Linked DNA regions of Homo sapiens: region 2 is linked to region 1. Evidence: fine-mapped expression QTL. A gene starts in region 1. The other region holds a variant in brackets. All regions are shown on one strand. Distances are from middle to middle. Region 1 holds the start of PKD2L1 (polycystin 2 like 1, transient receptor potential cation channel). Region 2 overlaps PKD2L1 (polycystin 2 like 1, transient receptor potential cation channel).

Region 1 (5,428 bases):
ACCCCACACACAACTATATTAAACTAGGCAAACATCACTTGTGCAACTTTTGAAAGAAGTAATAAACCAAATACAAAGTTGCTGTCATTACCTACAAGTCTAATAGCATCTGTTTGGTCCAATTTTATTATTATTTACGGTTCTTTGACTCTATCTTCCCACAGTCGCCCTCCTATCTTTTCACTTGCTTCTCTCAACTTAGAGATCAAAATTTCTCAGTTTGTGTCTATAGCTAGAGCCTCAATAAGCTTCCTCCAATGGCATGTGACATGGTGGTCTCTCACATGGGACCATCACCATACCATGTGTTTCCCTCCCTCTCTTAACAGGGATCTGAGATCTAAGGTCGCCTGGATCTTTTACTTCCTCTCTTTTTTCTTCCATCTTTTTCTCTGCCTCTAAAGAAACATGCATCGGATATAGTATAATAACTACGTGAAGCCCACCAAACTATCTTTCCAAACAGAAGGGAGTGGTTTTCCACTCTTTTTTTTTTTTGGAGACAGAGAGACAGAGTCTTGCTCTGTCCCCCAGGCTGGAGTGTAGTGGCACGATCTTGGCTCACTGCAACCTCTGCTCCTGGGTTTAAGCGATTCTCCTGCCTCAGCCTCCTGAGTAGCTGGGATTACAGGCACCTGCCACCCAGCTAATTTTTGTATTTTTAGTAGAGACAGGGTTTCGCCATGTTGGCCAAGCTGGTCTCAAAACTCCTGACCTCAGGTGATGTGCCCACTTCGGCCTCCCAAAGTGCTGGGATTACAGGCGTGAGCCACCGTGCCAGCCCACTCTCTACAGAAGGGTAAAATATTTTCACCTTTCACCTTTTCAGCCAATAGAAAACAATGGCTGCCAAAAACTGGTTTCCCCTTGTAATTCTTGACCAAACTGCCTTCCTCTACTGACAAATTCCTTTTAAACAAAATATCTTAAGCTGCAAAGGTAAATAGATGGGATTGGAATATTGTTATCTAAAGTTCCCGGATATAGCCTGCTTACACAGATAGATGCTCGCTCCACAGATGTTGCCCACAGGAATGTTTATACATATAGTGCACACATAGATGTTTCTCACAGACAGATGTACACAAACACAGATGCTACTCACGTAGACAGATGTCCACCAGGAACACAATATATACCAACAGCTCCCTCAGGGTGGTCTTGATATAAAGTTCCCGGTTCTCAGCTGTGTTCTCAGTCAGGGTTGTTCCCCAAAGTCCTAAGGGGCATGGGAGAGATGCCTGGGATGCTCAGTGGCAGTGTTCCTCCCAGTCATCCCCACCCATCTGTCTCTGGACTTTAGCCCCTTTCCACCCCTGCCCTTCCTTGCCCATCACCTTCATCCTTGGCTGAATCTGGCTACTGTACCCACACCCATGCTTGCTCTTCCCATCAGCTCCCTGAGGTCGACAGGGGTGAAGGCCCTGGCTTGTAGAGAATGAAGGCATGGAAAGGAGGCACCTGTTCCAGGTGGGGTAGTCTAGGGCATCATCACATCCATGTCCTCCCTCAAACCAGCTCCCACATACCTCTCTGGATCCCCAGGTGATGACCATGCCAGGCTCCCACAACCGGTAGACCGCTCAGCTGGCCTCTGTGTTCTGGGTCATGCAGCACTACCATGGGCAATTCATACACCCCAAAGTGACACCGAAAGGTCACCTCTTCTTCAGATCACATTCCACCCCCACCCCCTGCCCAAAAGCTTTTGGTGACTCCTCCTGATTCTAATATCCCAGGAGAACTGTCCCCCTATCTGGTACCTCTGATGCCTTGACAGATATGGAGGCAGCAGCTGGACACCTGGGTCCTGTATGCCGTCTCCTGGGGTTCATCTTCAGGCTTCTTGGGTTGGGGCTGGAGAGGCCCCGTGCTGGAGATGGTGCAGACTCTCAGCGTCCCGTGTGGGGAAGGGGGACCACTGTAGGCGGGGTTGTCCCAGGCTCCACTCCCCAGCTTTTGCAGCTCCTGCCCCTCAGGACTTCCCACAGCATTCATGGGGAATGAGGTGGGGGGGCCCGGTACCCCAGGTGCCCACTCTCAGCTAGAGGAAGAGGGAGCAGAGGCACAGCCCAGCCTAGCCAGCAGAGAGCAAATGGAAAGGCGTCTGAGAGCAGCTGTTTCCACACAGCCTGGGCTCCTGCCTTTTGTAGGGGGATGTCTGTGCCTGCTGGGGAGGGAGCGGATGAGAGGACAGGGTGGGGAAGGACCATCAATCCTGTCAGGAGCTCTCTCTCCCTCTTGCTGCAAGCCCCAGGGGACCAGCCGAAAGGGGAGGTGAGGGAACTGGAAGGTGGGGGTTTGAAGAGGGGAGAGGGGAGAATAGGAGGAGGATGTGGAGCTGGGAGTGGAAGGAGAAACGGGAGGAAAAGGCGATGCTGGGGATGAAGGGGGCTGCTCGCAGATGTGCCTGGTGGAGAGATGGCCCAGAGGTCGGACAGAAGAGACGATCAAAGAGCAATGGGAGGAGCTGAGACAGGAGGGGAGCCGGGGGCCTGTGCTGCGGGTCTGAGCTCATTTCCACTAAAAGCTCCTAAAAGGGCCGACATGGATTGGGGTGGGGACCAAGGCTGGGAGGAAAGCTGAAGAGCGCTGTCCCCCTCCCAGGCTCTGCCCACCTCCCAGGTTCAGTCAATGGGTCTGAGGCTCCTGTCCTGTCTCACCTTCAGCTGTCCCCTGGTGGAGCAGAGATGGGCAGCTCCCTTCCCTCACTTCACCCTCTCAGCCGTGGGGAAAGGACAGTGGCAGGAGGAACCCCAGTCTCACATACTTCAGGGCACTGAGGGGGCAGGGGAGAGGACCACAGAGTCCTAGGTTGTCTATATTCCTTGTTCTGAAGCTTGCCTTTCCATGGCTTACAGGTGAGATACACCAAGAGAGGGGGTTCCTTAAGGGTGTGGGGCTCAGTATGGGAAAAAGGCTAAGACCTGGTTGGGAGGCTGGATCGGAGAACAAAGGACAAGGACAGTATGATGTGGGACTAAAGGGGAGTGGATATCTGGACCCAGCTGAGCTGGGAACCTTTTCCCATGGCTCTGCTTAGTCCTGGGCCTAGAATCGTAAACTTGAGCACAAAGTGGAACTATCCATGATATCAGGATTAATCTGCTTTCTTTATAACTGCAGGTCTCTGAATTAAAACTGTGTCATGGGCCCCCAAGCACATCCCTGCCTATGCCCTGCTCCAGCTTCTGATCACCTGCTCCAGCTCCCCTATAGGCATGCATGATGCCCCAGAATGGGGCTGATCCCACAGGTTGTGGTGGTCACCCTGCAGTTTCTCCTCCTTGAGGCTAGAGCAGAGACTTTCCTCTCCTAACTCCTGGCTCCCCACCCAGGGCTACTCACTGGCCTGAAGCCCACCTTCACATTCAGCAAAACATCAGCCTTGTCAAAATAATCAGTCTTGAGTGTCCCTATAAAGAGATCTTGGCTGGGTGTGGTTGCCCACACCTGTAATTCCAGCACTTTGGGAGGCCAGGGCAGGAGGATCACTTGAGCTCAGGAGTTCAAGACCAGCCCGGGCAACATGGTGAAACACCGCCTCTACAAAACAACAACAAAACAACAAAAATTAGCCAGGCATGGGGTGCGTGCATGTAGTCCCAGCTGCTACTCAGGTGGCTGGGGTGGGAGAACCACTTGAGCTGGGGAGGCTGAGGCGTTGAGGCTGCAGTCAGCTGAAATCACACCACTGCACTCCAGCCTGAGCAACAGAGCAAGACCCTGTCTCAAGAAAAAAGAAAGAAAGAAAGATAACAAGTGTTGGCAAGGCTGTGGAGAAAAGGGGCCCCTTGTATGCTTGGCTGTATTGTAAATTAGTACGGACATCTTGGAAAACAGTATGGAGGTTCCTCAAAAAACTAAAAATAGAATTACCATATGTTCCAAGAATCTCAAAGGAATTGAAATCAGTGTGTTGAATAGATGTCTCCTCTCCCATGTTCATTGCAGGATTATTAATAATAGCCAAGATATGGAAACAATCTAAGTATCCATCAACTGACGAAAGGATTTAAAAGATGTGGTATATATGCACAATATAATATATTCAGCCTTGAAAAAAAAAACACAGAAAATTCTGTCATTTACGACAACATAGATAAACCTAGAGAACATTATGTTAAGTGAAATAAGCCAGGCATAATGAGACAGATGCCCTATGCTCTCACTTATATGTGGAAACTAAAAAAATTGAACTCGTAGAAGTAGAGAGTAGAATGGTGGTTACCAGAGGCTGGGGGTGAGGGGTGTGTGAGAGGGGAAGAGAGTGGTCGATGGATAAAAGCTTTCAATCAGGCAAGAGAAATATGTTCTGTTGTTCTGTTGCACAGTGTGGTGACTACAGTTGATAATGAGGTACTGTGTACTTCAAAATAGCTAACAGAGAGGATTTAAAAAGTTCTTACTACAAAGAAATGATAAATATTTGAAGTAATGAATATGCTAATTCACCTGATTTGATCACTCCACAATGTATACATGTATCAAAATGTCACATTGTACCTCATAAGTATATAGAATTATTATTTATCAATTAAAAATAAAATAAAACTTTAAAAAATGGAGCAAATGGGCCAGGCACAGTGGCTAACATCAGCACTTTGGGAGGCCGAGCTTGAGACTAGGAGTTCAAGACCAGCCTGGGCAACAAAGTGAGACCCTGTCTCTACAAAAAAATCAAAAAATTAGCTGGGCATGGTAATGCATGTCTGTGATCCCAAATACACAGGAGGCTGAGGCAGGAGGATTGCTTGAGCCCGGGAGGTCAGGGCTGCAGTGAGCCGTGTTCATGCCATTGCACTCCAGCCTTGGTGACAGAGAAAGAGCTTGTTTCAAAAAAAAAAAAAAAAAAAAGCAGCAGCAGCAAATGGAGGCATGAATAATGTGAGGTAGCCTATTTTAATGGTATAGACACTAAACATTATGAAGTTTAGGGGAAAAGGAAGCTTCCTCTGGAGGAAATGAAACAGAAGCTAGATCTTGATGGATGGGCGAGGTTTGGGAAGGAAGAGCCCCATCAGGTTTGGATGGGAAGGTTTGGAAAAGAAGAGGTTCCTTCTAAGCATAGGAATGATAGGTGGGGTCTTGGGGCTCTGAAGATGTCTGTGATGCCCCTAGGGTTGTAGAAGACTGGCCCTTAGTGCAGTTGGGAGAAAACAGAGGAGGGGGAAGGCCTGAGGTTGCATAACGAGGGTGAGGACCTCTGGTGGTCCCTATTGCCGCCGAGAACTGTGGTGTGCGTGAATCCCTTCAGAGACCATGGAAACTACCAGCTATTCAGAGTGGTTGAAGAACAAAAGGAGGTGGCTTCTGACCAAGTCAGTGGGAAGGAAATGACAAAATAAGAAGAAAAGGAAGGGTTCTTTTTCATTTGGGGCACTCATCCATGCTAATTTTTCATCCATAAAGAAATGAGTAGTCAATC
Region 2 (5,000 bases), 39 kb before region 1:
GTAGCCCTTATGAGTGGGCTCACGCCTGTAATTCCAGCACTTTGGGAGGACGAGGTGGGTGGATCACCTGAGGTCAGGAGTTCGAGACCAGCCTGACCAATATGGAGAAACCCCATCTGTACTAAAAATACAAAATTAGCTGGGTATGGTGGCACATGCCTGTAATCCCAGCTACTTGGGAGGCTGAGGCAGGAGAATCACTTGAACTCAGGAGGCGGAGGTTGCAGTGAGCCGAGATCGTGCCATTGCACTCCAGCCTGGCCAACAAGAGTAAAATTCCATCTCAAATAATAATAATAATAAATAAAATAAAAAAATAAAATAAAGGAGACTTCCCTTACCCCTTCCACCATGAAAGGGCACAGCAAGAAGACAGCTCTCTATGAATCAGGAAGTGGGCCCTCAACAGATACTGAATCTACTGGCACCTTGATCTTAGACTTCCCAGCCTCCCAAACTGTGAGGAACAAATTTGTGTTGCTTATAAGCCACCCAGTCTATGATAATTTATTATATCAGCCCAAACAGACTGACACAGACCATCTCATGTGGCCAAGGCAGCCCTTAGGCCAGGGCAAGCAACTTCCAGGCCTTATCTCCATGACCCATCTCTGCTGATACACTAACCGCTATGAACATGTTTCCCCAGGAGCCTGAAAACATAGGTCTTTCAAAAATGTTCTTGCCCCACCCACTGAGTGGAAAAGATGGCAGAGTTCAGCTGTGAGGAACTAGGAGGACCAGGTGAAGGGCCACTCACCACGCCTGGGGAGGGAGCCAGCCACCCCTTCCTCTCCAGCATTTTCAGCTTTGAGCCTACAGCATCAATCTGGGACACTACTCCTTCCAGGACAGTCTCCAGCTGCAGAACTCTCCTTGTGAGCCTGTGTGGGATTTGAGAGAGACGAATGGAGCAGAAATCTGTGTCTGGGGGCTGGATGTCTAAAGAGCCAGGGTTCACAGAAGGGCATGTGTCCTGAATGGAACAAGGAAGGGAAGACCCAGCCTTGTAGGCAGAATTAAAGGGGAGCGGAGGTTCTCCCTGGGGTAGGACAGAGAATTGGAAAGTTGTGGGAAAAGTACAAGACAGGGTATCGTAATAGAAGTGTTGCCAGCCCTGAACCAGCCTTTCTTGGCTGCACGTACATGTAGAATTCTTCTCCTGAAACCCAGCCTCCTGCTCTGGCAGCCTCTGGACCCGATTTGCCTTGTGGGCTGCTCACAATAGATCGGCCTAGTTTCTCAATCTCAGTGTTGAGGGCCACCTGCTCAGGAAGTCAGAGGTTAGAGGGGAGGAGATAACTCTGGGAAGCCATCAGCTCCTGTTCTATCACCTACTCTACTGGGATCTCAGGACCAAGGCTCAGGTCCTAGTTCTTGCTATTCCCCTTCCCTCCCAGACTCTGGAGACAATAGGGTCAGGGTGGTGGTGCTGGACCAACCTCTGGAGGAGTCACCTCTCAAAGAAAACACAAGATCCTAGAAGGCTTGATGGATGAGGTATTTACTAGAGGCCAACTCATTTTAGCAGAGGAGGGACACTACCAGTGTTCTTGGCACTTTCTAGGCTGCTGTCACCCTGCCTTTGACTTTTTTTGGTCCACACTGGATAGGGATGGAGCAGGCACAGTAGGGACAGCCAAGAATCCAAGTCTGAAAATTCCCAAGAGAAGGCAAGTCCTCTGAGGGAATTATCAGTGATTCTTGGGCAGTTGGTCATTTTTCCCTAAGCCTGTGTTTTAGAGCATGATTCTCAACCTTGGCTATGTATTGGAATCACCTAAGGAGTTATAAAAAGTACTGATGTCTAGGCCCCACACCCAGAGATTCTGGTTTAATTGGTCTAGAGTGTGTGTCCTGAGTATGAAGATTTTTAAAGGCCCCCCAGGGTATTCTAATGTGCAGCAGTTTGGGAACTACTATTCTAGAGAGTTCTTTACTATCTATGGGAGAGTTTTCAGGTGGGTTTGTGTTCTAGGTATGTTGGGGGAAGGAGAGGGTGAGCTATTTCCTTACACTGCCTCTCCACCCATCAGCCCAGCTCACCCTCTCTTCCTCCAGGTCCTGTCGCATTTTTTCCTGTTCCTTCTCATCCAGAATACGATTCCCATCTCTGTCAAACTTGGTGAAGGTGGCCGTGAGCTCAGTGATTTCATGCTCTGCGTGTCCCAGTCTGAGAAGAGGATGATGAAATGATTTCTGCCCAGCTGTGGCTGTGACCTCTCAGTTATG[G/T]ACTTCCTCACTCTTTTGCTTGACTCTGGCAAAAGTTTTGCTTCTGGTAAAGAAGGTTCTCCAAAGTCTAGCAATCTTACCCCCAGGAAAACACTCAGTTCAGTTCAGTTTCTTCTTCCTCTCCTGACTCCTGCTCACCAGGTTCAGGGCCTCATGACCTCCTACAGGGATTATTGCAAAATCTGTTTGCCTCTAAATAACCTGCTATCCCCCAGCTTCCCCTTTACTCCCTACCCCTGAAATCCATCCTCCATAATACAACTAGAGTAATTAACCTTTCTAATATGCAGATCTAAAAATGTGCCTTCTTGAAATCCCTTCTGGCACCCTATTCTTTTGGCAGAGTGGTAGTGTGGCCTTTCTCAGTGTGGTCCTTGCCTGTTTCTCTGGTCTCATCTCCTGCTATGACCACCACCTGTCCCCGCCCCTTTATTTAATACTTAGCAATGCTCAACTACTTATTCCTCCTGTGTATGTTGCTTGGTTTCAGACCTCTATGCTTTTGTATGTGCTTTCATCTCTTCTTGGAAGAGCCTTCCTCTGCTTGTCCACTTGTGAGCTATTCATCCTCCAATATCCTATTTAGACATTACCTCTTCCAGGAAGCCTTCCCTTAAGCTCAGAGATAGAATTGATCACCCTCTACTCCTAGTCACTTCTGTTGAACTTATTCTGTGATTCAGTTTATTTGCAAGTCTATGAGCTCTTAGAAAACAAAGACTTTGTCCCATTTAATTACGTTGTCTCCTAATCCCAGCACTTTGGGAGGCTGAGGTGGGTGGATCACTTGAGGCCAGGAGTTTGAGACCAGCCTGGCCAACATGGCAAAATCCCATCTCTACCAAAAATACAAAAATTAGCCGGGCGTGGTGGCACATGACTGTAGTCCCAGCTACTCAGGAGGCTGAGGCATGAGAATTGCTTGACCCCGGGGAAGCTGAGGTTGCAGTGAGCCGAGATTGTGCAACTGCACTCCAGCCTGGGCAACAGAGCAGGACTTTGTCTCAAAAAAAAAAAAAAAATTATGTTGTCTATTACTCAGTGCCTGATCTGCAGCTGGTGCTCACAATGTATTTGTTCAATGTGTATTAATATGTTTGACTGGGAATCAGGGAGTGAATGGCTAAAGGAATAGATGAGTGTTTGTGGGGAAGCATAGAACAAAAATCAGAGTTTTGTGGGAGTGGGGTGTGTATTCAATGATTAGGGAATTATTACATTGTTTCCTAAGAGTTGTTCAACAAGATCCAGGATGTTATAAACCACGGTCAGAGATTTTTAAACCAAGGGCACAGTTCTGAAGGTCAGGAGCGGAGACCTACGGGCAAAGATCTGAAGCCTGCAAGTCAAGATCAGAGGCCCCTAAACTAAAACCAAAGGCTTATAAGCAAATGAAGTATGGTTGAGGGTTGAGGACTTAAGAGACTGTTATTAGAGAAGGCTGGGTCTCTGGTTGCTCACTCCCTTAAGGTGTTGGTGAAATCCTCAAACTGGATCTCCTGCTCCCCACCCTGCAGGACCTTCTGCACATCCGAAACCCTCTCCTTCCTCAGACGCAGTCTTAGTAGGGTCTTGTTGTAGCCCTGAAAGGGAAAGGAAATAGGCACAAGTTCTCACAGGCTGCTCACTCATCCCTGGCCCCCAGCCCCACCCATAGTATGCCAGGCTTCCAAGGATAAATTTAAAGGCACACAAGGGCACAGGCACCTCAATCAGTCAGGAACAGACCAGGACACAGAGCCTTAGACTGGGGCACTGATGGAAATGTGTAGCTCAAGGAGATTGAGCAATCACCTGTTTCAGGAGGTCAGAAAGTTGCAGCTCATCCTTCTGTCCAGCCAGCTCCTCCTTGACCTCTGAATATGTGTCATTGATGATGGCCAGGAACATGTTCTGGAAAATGAAGTGGGGACCTGGGTCCTCACCCCCAGACCCACTGAAAGGATTGAGCCCACTGACCCCATTAATGTCCAAGACACGTGTTCCAAAGGGGTCAGTGCTCTCAACCCCAGTTCGGCAGCCCATCAATCCCTGCCTCTCAGGGTCCCCAGAGCCCAGCCTTTCAGCACAGTTCTGTTAGAGATGGATCATGCTTCTTGACCAACCTGGTGTCCTCACTCTCAGTTGCTGTAGTAACCTTTCTGACCACAGAGATACAATAACATATGCCACAGACCTCCTTTGTATAAGGGCCCATCAATCATTGGAACTAGAGGCTTTTCAGGGTGAGAGTACAATTGTGATCTCTTTTTCATCTACCCCCCAATCCATATCTGTATCCCCATCCATTGATCAAATAAAGAAAATTGCTGGCCTTGTTAGTAAAAATAAAATCCAAGAGCTGGGCACACTGGCCTACACCTGTAATCCAGCACTTTGGGAGGCCAAGGCAGGCAGATTGCTTGAGTCCAGGAGTTAGAGACCAGCCTGGGCAACATAGCAAAACACTGTCTCTACAAAAGATACAAAAATTAGCGGGGTGTGGTGGCTCCTGACCATACCAGTGGTCCTATCTACTCAGGAAGCTAAAGTGGGAGGATAGTTTGAGCTCGGGAGGTGGAGGTTGCAGTGAGCTGAGATTGCACCACTGCACTCCAGCCTGGGTGACAGAGTGAGACCCTGTCTAAAATAAATAAATAATAACCCAGATTTTTCATGGTTGGCAGGGAGAGAGAACTACCAAGTAGTGGCAGTAGAAATCAGCATGAGATCCCCAGAGGAAGGGGAGTCTTGGAGGACGGTCGTAGACGCTTCCAGGTGCAGCTACT

The links. PIP is the estimated chance that this variant, and not a neighbour inherited with it, causes the effect.
Region 2: its variant is fine-mapped to the expression of PKD2L1 in whole blood (TOPMed, PIP above 0.99).

What each region holds. Positions count from the first base shown.
Region 1 is chr10:100,328,106-100,333,533 of GRCh38, forward strand. It overlaps PKD2L1 (polycystin 2 like 1, transient receptor potential cation channel), which reads right to left and starts at 2,123. Exons shown (of 16, transcript NM_016112.3): 1 at 1,764-2,123; 2 at 1,106-1,219. The coding sequence starts at 1,998.
Region 2 is chr10:100,289,255-100,294,254 of GRCh38, forward strand. PKD2L1 (polycystin 2 like 1, transient receptor potential cation channel) reads right to left here. Exons shown (of 16, transcript NM_016112.3): 10 at 4,027-4,125; 11 at 3,694-3,815; 12 at 2,047-2,173; 13 at 1,147-1,265; 14 at 761-884. Among named protein-coding and RNA genes, the nearest start is that of BLOC1S2, 5.1 kb to the left of the region's middle. The variant G/T (reference allele first, on the strand shown) is at 2,233.